Homo sapiens: one gene and its partner. The protein of the gene in region 1 interacts with the protein of each later gene in a biochemical or structural test. Each region holds a gene or a part of one and is shown on either strand. Other genes may lie near its edges.

Region 1 (7,549 bases):
CCTTAAACTTTATTTATTTATTAAGATAGAGTCTCACTCTGTCGCCCCGGCTAGAGTGCAGGGGAGTGATCTTGGCTCATTGCAACTTCTGCCTCCCAGGTTCAAGCAATTCTCCTGCCTCATCCATTCGAGTAGCTGGGACTACAGGCATGTGCCACTGTGCCTGGCTAATTTTTGTATTTTTAGTAGAGATGGGGTTTTGCCATGTTGGCCAGGCTGGTCTTGAACTCCTGACCTGAAGTGATCCGCTAGTCTCAGCCTCCCAAAATCACCTTAAACTTTAGTGTCTTTAATTCATGCCTTGCTGAGGTCAGGTCTGCCTAATGGATCTACTACTACATTTATCACAACTGCTGTCTCCCTGAGCCCCTGGAATTGAGTGTCAGTCCAAAAGATGTTTTGGTGGTATTTTTGGTTGTGCTGGTTCCAGGCTCTGAAACTGCTCAATCTTACTGGTGAACTGTGAATCTGACCCCCCAGACCTCCAAGGATGGCTCAGTATCAGGCCAGGTGATGTGTATACCTTCACCCCACTGCCTACCCTTACAAACATGTGCACAGAAAGCTTCCCATGCTTAGACGTTTCTATTAAACTTTTTTCCTTAAAAAGAAACCTGGGCCGGACACAGTGGCTCACACCTGTAATACCAGCACTTTGGGAGGCCGAGGCAGGTGGATCACTTGAGCCCAGGAGTTGGAGACTAGCCTTGGCAACATGGTGAAACCCCATCTCTAGAAAAAAAAACAAAAATTTGTAGGGTATGGTGGTGCATGCCTGTAGTCCCAGTTACTCAGGAGGCTGAGATGACAAGATCACTTGAGCTTGGGAGGTCGAGGCTGTAGTGAGCTATGATTGCCCCACTGCATTCCAGCCTGGGCAACAGAGTGAGACACCCTCTCCAAGAAAAAAAAGAGAAAGAAACCTAAAAGCGTTACCGCGAATCCTCCCATTCTTTTTCTGTGAAACATTAGACATACGCAATTCTCTCCCCCCATTCTCACCCCCATCCTCTATGCACATGTAATATTTGCAGCGTTGACAGCTCTGGAGCAGTAAAATCTTCTTGGCCAGTCTCAGCCCGGAACCTTCCAGCTCCCCCTTCCCTAGGGCAGAAGGCGACAATCTCCTCTCTGGCTTTGTTGGTATCCGTTTTAACCCTAATTTTTTTTTTTTTTCCCAGTGCCTTGCCATTTCCCTTGATCTTTTTCAAAACTTCCTCCAGGGGGCTGAGAGGAAAGTTCCATCCCCTTTCCTTGCAACCCGAAGGGGGAAACCCCCCAAAAAGCAAAGCTGTCCCTTTAAGGGGCCCATGTGGTGGGAAGAACAGCTACATTCCTACCCCAGTAGGGCCGCTGTCCCAACACGCCAAAGAGGCTACAAATAACCTTCCAGGAGAGAGCCGGGGAGGGGAGAGCGCAGAGCGGAGCGGAACGTGGGCCGGCCAAGCTACCGCTCTTCGGAGAGAAAGAGCTCAGTCCGCGCTAGAGAGGACGCGGAAAAAAGCCCCTGAAAACCCACAGGTAGTTTAAATAAGAGACATGAAAACTCTGTTTTGGATTTGGGAGGTAAACCAATCTTTAAAACGAGTGCCTAGACATCTCCACGCCCTGCCAGGCAAGTTCGGAAATCTGCACTGACTTTTTCCACACGAGCTGTCCTACGTGAAAGAAAGAACCGGTAAAAGACCAGGCAGGGTCTCCAGACCCCTCCATTCTGAGCCCCAGCTCCCTTCATCGGGGCTGCGAGGCAAATGGGGAGACTCGGAACTCCCGCCACGATGAATAGCGATGGGTGAATAGGGCTGGGGTTCAAAGATCAAAGTTCTTTGATCTCTGGGCACAAACTAGGGAAAGCTGCTCAATCACGGGGTGCACCCAGGGTCGTTAAGAGCCCGCGGAGAAGCAGATTCCATCGGAGCCCTAGTCCCACACAACAGGGGGTACGGGCACCAAGGAGTCCTGCTGCAGCCGTCCAGCTCCCCCGAGGGCTGGGACCCTGCCGCGAGGGCCCGGCGGCTGCCTTCTGGGGTTCAGGGTTACCGGCCCCCTGCCCCCCTACCCCAGCCAGGGCAGATCTGCGGGAGCCTTCCAGCAGTTTCTTCCCTATATTCCTCCTCAGCCCCCTTTCCAACCACCTCCCTTTAGGACGATCCAGGGCTGGAAGCTGACTGGCCGCAGCCAAGAGAGGGACCCCGAAACACCGCCGAGGGGAGATGCTGCCCGCAAACAGTGCCCCAGAGCCCCTTGGTGGGAGCAAGACCTGGAGTCCGGGAATCGTTCTCCGAGTAGAGGAATCCCGGTGCCCAAGTACCAGATTCTACCGGGGCCTCTCTCCGCAACCCGCCCGAGCCCCCAGCCCCAGGAAGGAGGGCTATTTACAATTTATGGGTTTAGCGACCCTCCTCACCCGCCTCCCTTTCTTCGCACGCATTCATTCGCACCAAGGACACAGAGCCCCCGACCTAACCTGAAAGGGAAGCAGCCCCCGCTCTTGAAAGAGCAGCGAGGGAGGGCGAGCGAACGAACGCCCCGGACCTTACCCGCGCCCCGGCCCAGACCCGCGCCCCGGCCCAGACCCGAACCCGCGGAAGCGCCTCCGCTGATGCCCCCGCTCGGACTGCTGGAGCCGGGGCCGCTCCGGGTCCTCTCCCCTGCACGCAGCCCCAGGGCCACGGCTAGGAGCGAGGGCGAGGGGTCTCAGGCCCCGGCCCGCGCCGTCCAGGTCCCGGGAGGCGAGTCCTGCAGCGGCCGGACCCAGGGACAAACTTTCCCGGCGGGCGCCGCTTACCGTGTGCGCAGAGCAGGGCGCCAAGCAGCAGCGCGCCCCACTGCCGCCTCATGGTGCCGCCCGCGCCGCTCGCCCGGGGTCCCGCCGGCTCCCGCCGGACGGCGCGGCGGAGAAGCCCGCGGAGGGTCCCCGAGGGGGAAGCGTCCCGGGTGCACGGCGGCCTGCGCGCCCCGCAAGTCGCCCTCGGGCCGCCGCCGCCTCCAGTGCTGCCAGAGCCGACGCTGCCCCGCCAGGGGACCGGGAGGGGGTGTCCCGGGCCCGACCGCCCCGCCCCCCGCGCCGCAGCCCCGGCCACCGCCACCGCGCCTGGGCCCGCCCCCAGCGCCGGCCCGGCCCCTTCCCGCCCTCGGCCCCGGCTCCCTGGTCCCCCGACCCCACCCGCCGGCGCCTCCTGCGCGGGGCCCCGCTCCTCCTCAGGCCGCCCCCACATTCCTGGCCCGAGAGAGAGCCCCCTCCCTGTCGCTATTACTACTGCTTAAATTTCCCTAACTTAAAAAAAAAAAATTATCCTAGCAGCAAGTCTCGCCCCCGCTCACTCCAGCTCTATGCTTCAGACGAGCACCTGAGCTGACCCAAGTCGCCTGGACGTGACCCTGCCCCCGCCTACCGGCCCCAAGTCCAGACTTTTTTGATGTCTGCGAATACGCAAGGCTTGTGGATGCATAATCCTCTTGGGTCTTTATTGACATCAAACAAGGGACATCAGGGGGCCTGGAGTGCTGTATCTTAACTGGCGTTCTCACTGTCAAAATTCCTTTTCGGAGATTTTCTTCTCCCTGGCCTCCCCCGGTCTAGGCAGCGTTGTTCTAGGGCTAAATAATTCACCGACCCCCCCGCCCCTTTTCATTCACTCATTTCCTGAGATGGTTGTCTGGGTCCTGTTGCTCCAGCTCAGAGGCCCAGATTCGGCCCATACAGACTTAGTTCCTCCTTGCTGTCTTTGTAAATCACTGTTGTTAGCCTCTTCACCTTCTTTGACTTTCTGATCCTGACAAGGAAGGGAGGGGGTCAGGAAAGGAGTCCTCATGGGCAGCTGCACTCCCACAAAGCCCTCAGCCTCCTTCCAGCCCCAGTCTGTAGGTCCTTCCCTCAGATTTAACTTTTGATTTACTGCATAAAATCATAAACTTGTCTCTAGTCTTCCTTCCTTTTGTGGTCTACTCTCCCTAATGCATATTAATAATACGGATTAATTTCACCACCTTCCATTTTTCCAGGTTGAATCTTGTTTTGTTCCTTTTGCCCAAATGCCCAACTTTCTGATGGCCCAGTATATCGCTTTTTTCCCTCCCAGCTGATATGCCAGCATTTCTTGGGCTTGGATCATCTATGGATTTCATTAACTCACTTTCCTCACCAGTAAATAGAGTCAGGAAGACCCAAATGCCCCCTGTTAGCTGAGGGGAAAGTAATTTGGCATAGTGCAAAGTGGTTATTAGATTTCTCTAAATGGATACATTGACATTTCATCCTTGCTTGTTTTTTTCAGTACTTTCACTTCAAATTACCATCTTTTACCAAAGCTAACATGAACCATACTTTGCGACAGCAACAACAACAACATAAAAGATGTAAGGTGTTAACTCCTTGTTAGGCAGTAGTTTTCTATATCGTTTTGCCTGAAATTTTTATCCAGATGCAATGTGGTTGAACTAGCATCACCATGGTAACTATTACTGAAGCATTTTCTGGGTGTGTAGTTCTTCTTGCTGACTGAAGGCGGCAGTAGCGTCAGGTCAGGCTTACATGATCTTGGGGCTAGGCAAGACTGTCAACATTTCTGGCCTCGATCAGTTACCACAGCCTAAAATCCAAGGAGGAAAAAACGTCAAAAGTAGAGGCTGATTCCCCAGCATCCTCCTTCCCACCTCTCATTTCCTAATGCAGGTTTGGTTGGTCTCAGGGTTTCATATATGTTGCTTATGAAGACTTGCTCTTTTTTTTTCTTTTTTGAGACGGAGTTTCACTCTTGTTGCCCAGGCTGGAGTGCAATGGCGCCATCTCAGCTCACTGCAACCTCGGCCTCCCGGGTTCAAGCGATTCTCCTGCCTCAGCCTCCCGAGTAGGGTAGCTGGGATTACAGGCATGCGCCATCACGTCCGGCTAATGTATTTTTCGTAGACGGAGTTTCTCCATGTTGGTCAGGCTGGTCTCGAACTCCTGACCTCAGGTGATCCACCCGCCTCGGCCTCCCAAAGTGCTGGGATTATAGGCGTGAGCCACTCTGCCTGGCCGAAGACTTGCTTTTAAATCTGTTGGGAATGACCTTGGGATTCTGGAGACCATATTTTTTTCCAGCTGAAAACTAGGGACTTGTGGTAGAGCCAGTACAGTTGTCCCAAAGAAATCCAGGATAGGCAGTCCCCATACTTTCAATGTCAGGGGATTAAGAAGTTATAAACAGTTTCCACTCTGTATGCAAAGGACAGGTTCCTTTCCAGAGGCATGATTTGTGTTGTTTTTCTGGAATTGGAGAAGAAACGAGAGGCGGGCTGTCCCTGTCTGACTCAGCTTGAGAGACTGTTTCCTATGTGCATCCCAAGTCCTTCTCCACGGTTCAGCACAGTTCTGGTGCACAGAGTCATCCCTGGCTGCTGTGAGTCACTGGGAATATCAATGGGTAAGAAACTAGCTTCGTGCATAGTCCCTGTCTGGGTCACCCCCTAGGGTGAGTTAAGTCTTGGCTGTCAGAGACTGCTCTTGTGCCAGGAGTACTAAGCCATATTTATTTTTACCAGGCCTCTCAGACTTTCTTGTTTGGAGTGAGAGATCCTGAAAAGCAGGCCAGAATGGGCTGTTTGTCTCCCTTTCACTGTCCTCTGGGACATGCCCCTAGAAAAGTTGTAGGGGACTGCCAATTCCAGAGGGGTCTCAGAGGCGTTGGTTTCCTCAGAAACACCACCCCTTTCCTTCATCTTTCTAGAACAGCCCAGCATTCTTTCTTCCCAAGATCAGAATATTTCCCTGAATTAGACCATCACTAATGGTCTTTTCAAAGGAAACGCAGGGAGTGCTACGGAAACAAGATAGGGGTGGGCACTATTTTGATCCAACTGGGTTGGTAGAATTCTCTTATAACCCGGGAATCATTCAACAACCTGAATTTCTATATGTAATTCTTCTACAAGAGAATAAGGCCTGAAGTTTCACACTTCAACACAGTGGTTCTCAACCACAGGTGAATTGGCAGGCATGGGGCAACATCTAAAGACTTCCTTTCTTCCTTCCTTCCTTCCTTCCTTTCCTCCTCCTTCCCTCCCTTTCTCCCTTTCTCTCTTTCTTTTCTTCTTCCCTTTTATTTTATTTTATTTTGTTTTATGTTATTGAGACGTAGTCTTACTCTGTTGCCCAGGCTGGAGTGCAGTGGTGCAATGTAGGCTTACTGCAACCTCTGCCTCCCGGGTTCAAGCGATTCTTCTGCCTCGGCCTCCTGAGTAGCTGGCATTACAGGCATGCACCACCATGCCCGACAAATTTTTGCATTTTTAGTAGAGATGGGGTTTCACCATGTTGACGAGGCTGGTCTCAAACTCCTGATGTCAGGTGATCTGCCCACCTCGGCCTTCCAAAGTGCTGAGATTACAGGTGTGAGCCACCATGCTTTTTCTTTTAGAGACAGGGTCTCACTGTTACCAAGGCTGGAGTGCAGTGACTATTCACAGGCACAACTACAGCACACTGCTGCTTTGAACTCTTGGCCTCAGGTGATCCTCCTGCCTCAGCCTCCCAAGTAGTTAGAACTACAGGTGTGCACCACTGCACCCGGCAATTTTGGGGAGTTGATGTTACTGGCATCTAATGAATAGAGGCCAAAGATGGTGCTTAACTTTCAAAGATGGTGCTTAACTTTCTACAGTGAGCAGGGCATCCCCCACAACAAAGAATTATCCATCCCAAAATGTTAATAGTGCCAAGGTTGAGAAACTGCTTTAAAAGATTAAAACATGAGACTGCAAAGAATTACTCTATCTTATTTCCAGAATCACTTTCTTGTTGAAGGCAATGTGAATGGAGATAAGTTTTTGTTGTTGTTGTTGTTGTTGTTTTATTTTGTTTTTTGTTTTTTGAGACGGAGTCTCACTCTGGGCCCCAGGTTGGCCTGATCTCAGTTCACTGCAGTCTCTGCCTCTGGGCCCCAGGTTGGCCTGATCTCAGCTCACTGCAACCTCCGCCTCCTGGGTTCAAGGAATTCTTGTGCCTCAGCCTCTCCAGTAGGTGGGATTACAGGCATGTACCACCACACCTGGCTAATTTTTTTTTGTATTTTTAGTAGAGACAGGGTTTCACTATGTTGTCCATGCTGGTCTCCAGTGATCCGCTCACCTTGGCCTCCCAAAGTGCTGGGATGACAGGCGTGAACCACTGCGCCCGGCCAGTTCTTAAAACTTTAGAAGAGAAGGCACAGCTAAGGGGACTAATAGAATCCTATACCTATTTGCTTTAGAGAGGCTTAATTTCAGGATTCGCTTACTCAGTAACTACTTATAAAGGGTATATTATGCGCCAGGCACTCTGAGGCAATGATGAACAAATAAATATATTGGGTCCCTGGAACTTACAGTCTGATGGTTGAAGGGGGCTGCAAGTTTGCAGAAGCATTTAAAAAATGCTCCCACAAATGAATTTGAAGTTACAAATGTTAGAGGCTTTGAGGGAAAAGTACAGGGTTCTATGAAAGGAAAGACTGGACTTAGGTTTGGGGGTTCGAGGAAGGCCTGCCAGAGGCACTGACACCTAAGCTGAGTAAAAGCCATCAGGCTA
Region 2 (2,592 bases), on another chromosome or scaffold:
AAGGTTAGGGGAAGAGATGACAAGTAATGTGAATCCTAAAGAAAGAGGATTAGTTATTGGGGGTGCTAAGTGTGGATGGCAAACTAAGGAAGCAGGGATCTGCATGACCATTTGGAGTCAGTAGGAAGCTTGGTGGAGTGGGAGGTGGGAGTCAAGCAGAGAAGGCCTCCCATGTCAGATAGGGAAACTGCACTTGATCCTGGGCAAGGGGGAGCTATGGAAGGCTTTTGAGCAGGGGAGTGATACAATGAGAACAGCATTTTGGAAGCCAGCATGGAGGGGAGGCTGCTAAAAGGATACAAGGCTGAGGTTATTACCATGCCCTGGGTGAAGAAATGCGGTCTGGGTTTGGAAAGGAAGGGATAAACATGACTTTTCAAAGGAAGACATAATTGCCACAAGGGCCACCAGAGAGCAGTCAAAGGTGTGTCCAAGGTTGGAGCTCTAGTGACCAAGAGAAGGGTGTCAACTTTGACAGAAATGACGTCATGTGTGGTTGACAAAATGAGACCACATCCTTTCGGTCATGATTCATTGTCTTTATTAACAATGTCTCTGGACTCTGGAAGAACAGACTGTTAATTCATAAAGCAATATTAACATTGTCATTCTCTACAAGAAAAACTTTTGCATAAATAACTTAAGTGAGAAAATAAATATGTAACTTAACTCTTTAAAAACCACTACTTTCATTCTTGTGGACAAGTCCCACGTGGAAGAATTGCCAAAAAAACGACCAGTCCTGCAGGCTTTCATATGTCATGTGCTTCTGTTTAAAACTTTTTTTTTTTAACAATTAAAAACTACACAGAAAGTAAGAGGTTGTCTGGAAATGATTTTCAAAAAGATTTTTGGGTGGCAGTATTATGCTCTGCAGTTTCTCAGCATATGTACAGCACTTGTAGTTTTTCCCCCAATAATATTCTTTTAGTGTAAGATATGCCATCACATGTAAGAGCAGTAAGAAGCTGTTTTCTAGGCAGAAATGTGTCCGTGAGTGGTGGGCAGAAGGCGGTGTCTCAAAAGGGATGTGCTGGTCTGTGAGTTTGTGATGGCTGCTCCCTCGGGCCTGCAAGGCCAGTGTCCTTGAACCTTTCACTTCTCTTCGGAAGGTGACTTTAAAACATGGCTATGGGTCGGGGGAGGGATGCTGCTCTTTGGGAAGTTGGGGCGGATGTGATTTCTATCCCTCCCACCACCCTCGGACCCTCTCCTTTTCTACCCCAATGGATGATGTTATTTCTTTGAGATGGAGGGGTGGAGGTAGCCAAACATCCGGGGAAGCCAGGCTGGGAAGCAGCATAGCTTCTTCCAGGAGTTTGTCAGCCGTAAATATGTCAGCCATAAATAGACTCTTTACTTTTTTTTTTCTGTTTGTTTTTCATCTTTGGCTGTCAGAAGAGAGCATCACAACTCTGAATTCTGGAAGTGACCTTGGCACTGAATCAATGCAACTGCATTCATTCTCTCTCTTTCTCTCTCTCTCTCTCACCTCTGCCCATTCAAAAGGCACTGGAGTCCTTGGAATCATATGCCAATAGTCTCCTCGAGATCCTATTCCCACCTCCACCCTCATTTTACAAAGTGGAAATTGAGGTCCCGAAGGAGAATTGTGTAGTTCAAGGTTACACAGCAAGTTAGTGGCAGAGCCAGGACTAGAAACCACATCTACAGTTGCCCCCAGTCTTGTGCTCTGGGCACGCCTCAGGCTTTCTGATGGGCAGCGAGGTGCAAGGGGGAATCTTATCCAACTTTCTTAACCAGTCCCTGGACTTTCCCACTCCCACACCGCTCCCTTAAAACCCCAGGGCGGTGAAAATGCTTCCATTTCTGCCTCCTCTGAAGTGGGACCAGCAAAGGTAGGCGGCCCCAGAGGCGGGGCTGCGTGGCTCAGTGTCTGTGACTCTCAATTCCCTCCCCTGCCCCGTGGGACCCCTCAGCTGGCGGGCTGAGGGGGGCCTTGCCGGCGCCCGGGATTCCTCAGGGCCTGGAAGGTCTCAGCCCCCTGCCCTGGGTTGCAGGCATTTACAATGAAATATAAACAATCAAACCACGCGCAGAGGACAGAAATGTGGGGCGCGGGTTCAGGGCCGGGGCGCCCGCCGGTGGGGAGGGGCGCGGGCGGGCTCTAGTAGGCGTTCTCCAGCTCGGCCTGGTTGGCTTTGGCGCTCCGGGCGCGGGGCCGCGGCTTCCGGCCCTTCTGCGGCCGAGCGGCCTCGGTCCCGAAGTCCTTGAGCTCCGACTGGTTGTGGAAGCGGGTGAGGCGCTTGCACTTGCACGAGGCCACCAGGCGCACCTTGCGCGCGCGCGGCGCCTCACCACCGGGACACAGCAGCTGCACGCGCTGCGCGCGGTAGCGGTCGGGGATGCAGCGGAAGTCGGGCCCACTAGGTCGCCACCACTTGCCGCGGCCGATGGCGTTGGGCAGCAGGCGCGCCGGGCCGCACTGGCCGGAGCACACCAGCTCGGTGACCGGCTTGGCGCTGCGGCACGGCCCATCGGTCACGTAGCGGGTGAAGTGCAGCTCGCGGCAGCTGTACTCGGACACGTCTGTGGAGAGAGGCGCGCGTGAGGGTGGCCGCCCGCCTGGCC

Evidence for each region. Proteins that work in one complex are often made in the same cells at the same time.
Region 2: the proteins of LRP4 (region 1) and SOST form a complex in vitro, tested with the Homo sapiens proteins (one study listed by IntAct).

Annotation. Positions count from the first base shown.
Region 1 is NC_000011.10:46,915,540-46,923,088, forward strand, and holds the start of LRP4 (low-density lipoprotein receptor-related protein 4 precursor), read right to left. Parts: upstream 3,012-7,549; 5' UTR 2,841-3,011; coding exon 2,789-2,840; intron 1-2,788. UniProt on the Homo sapiens protein: Mediates SOST-dependent inhibition of bone formation. Functions as a specific facilitator of SOST-mediated inhibition of Wnt signaling.
Region 2 is NC_000017.11:43,753,214-43,755,805, forward strand, and holds the end of SOST (sclerostin precursor), read right to left. Parts: intron 2,551-2,592; coding exon 2,129-2,550; 3' UTR 525-2,128; downstream 1-524. UniProt on the Homo sapiens protein: Negative regulator of bone growth that acts through inhibition of Wnt signaling and bone formation.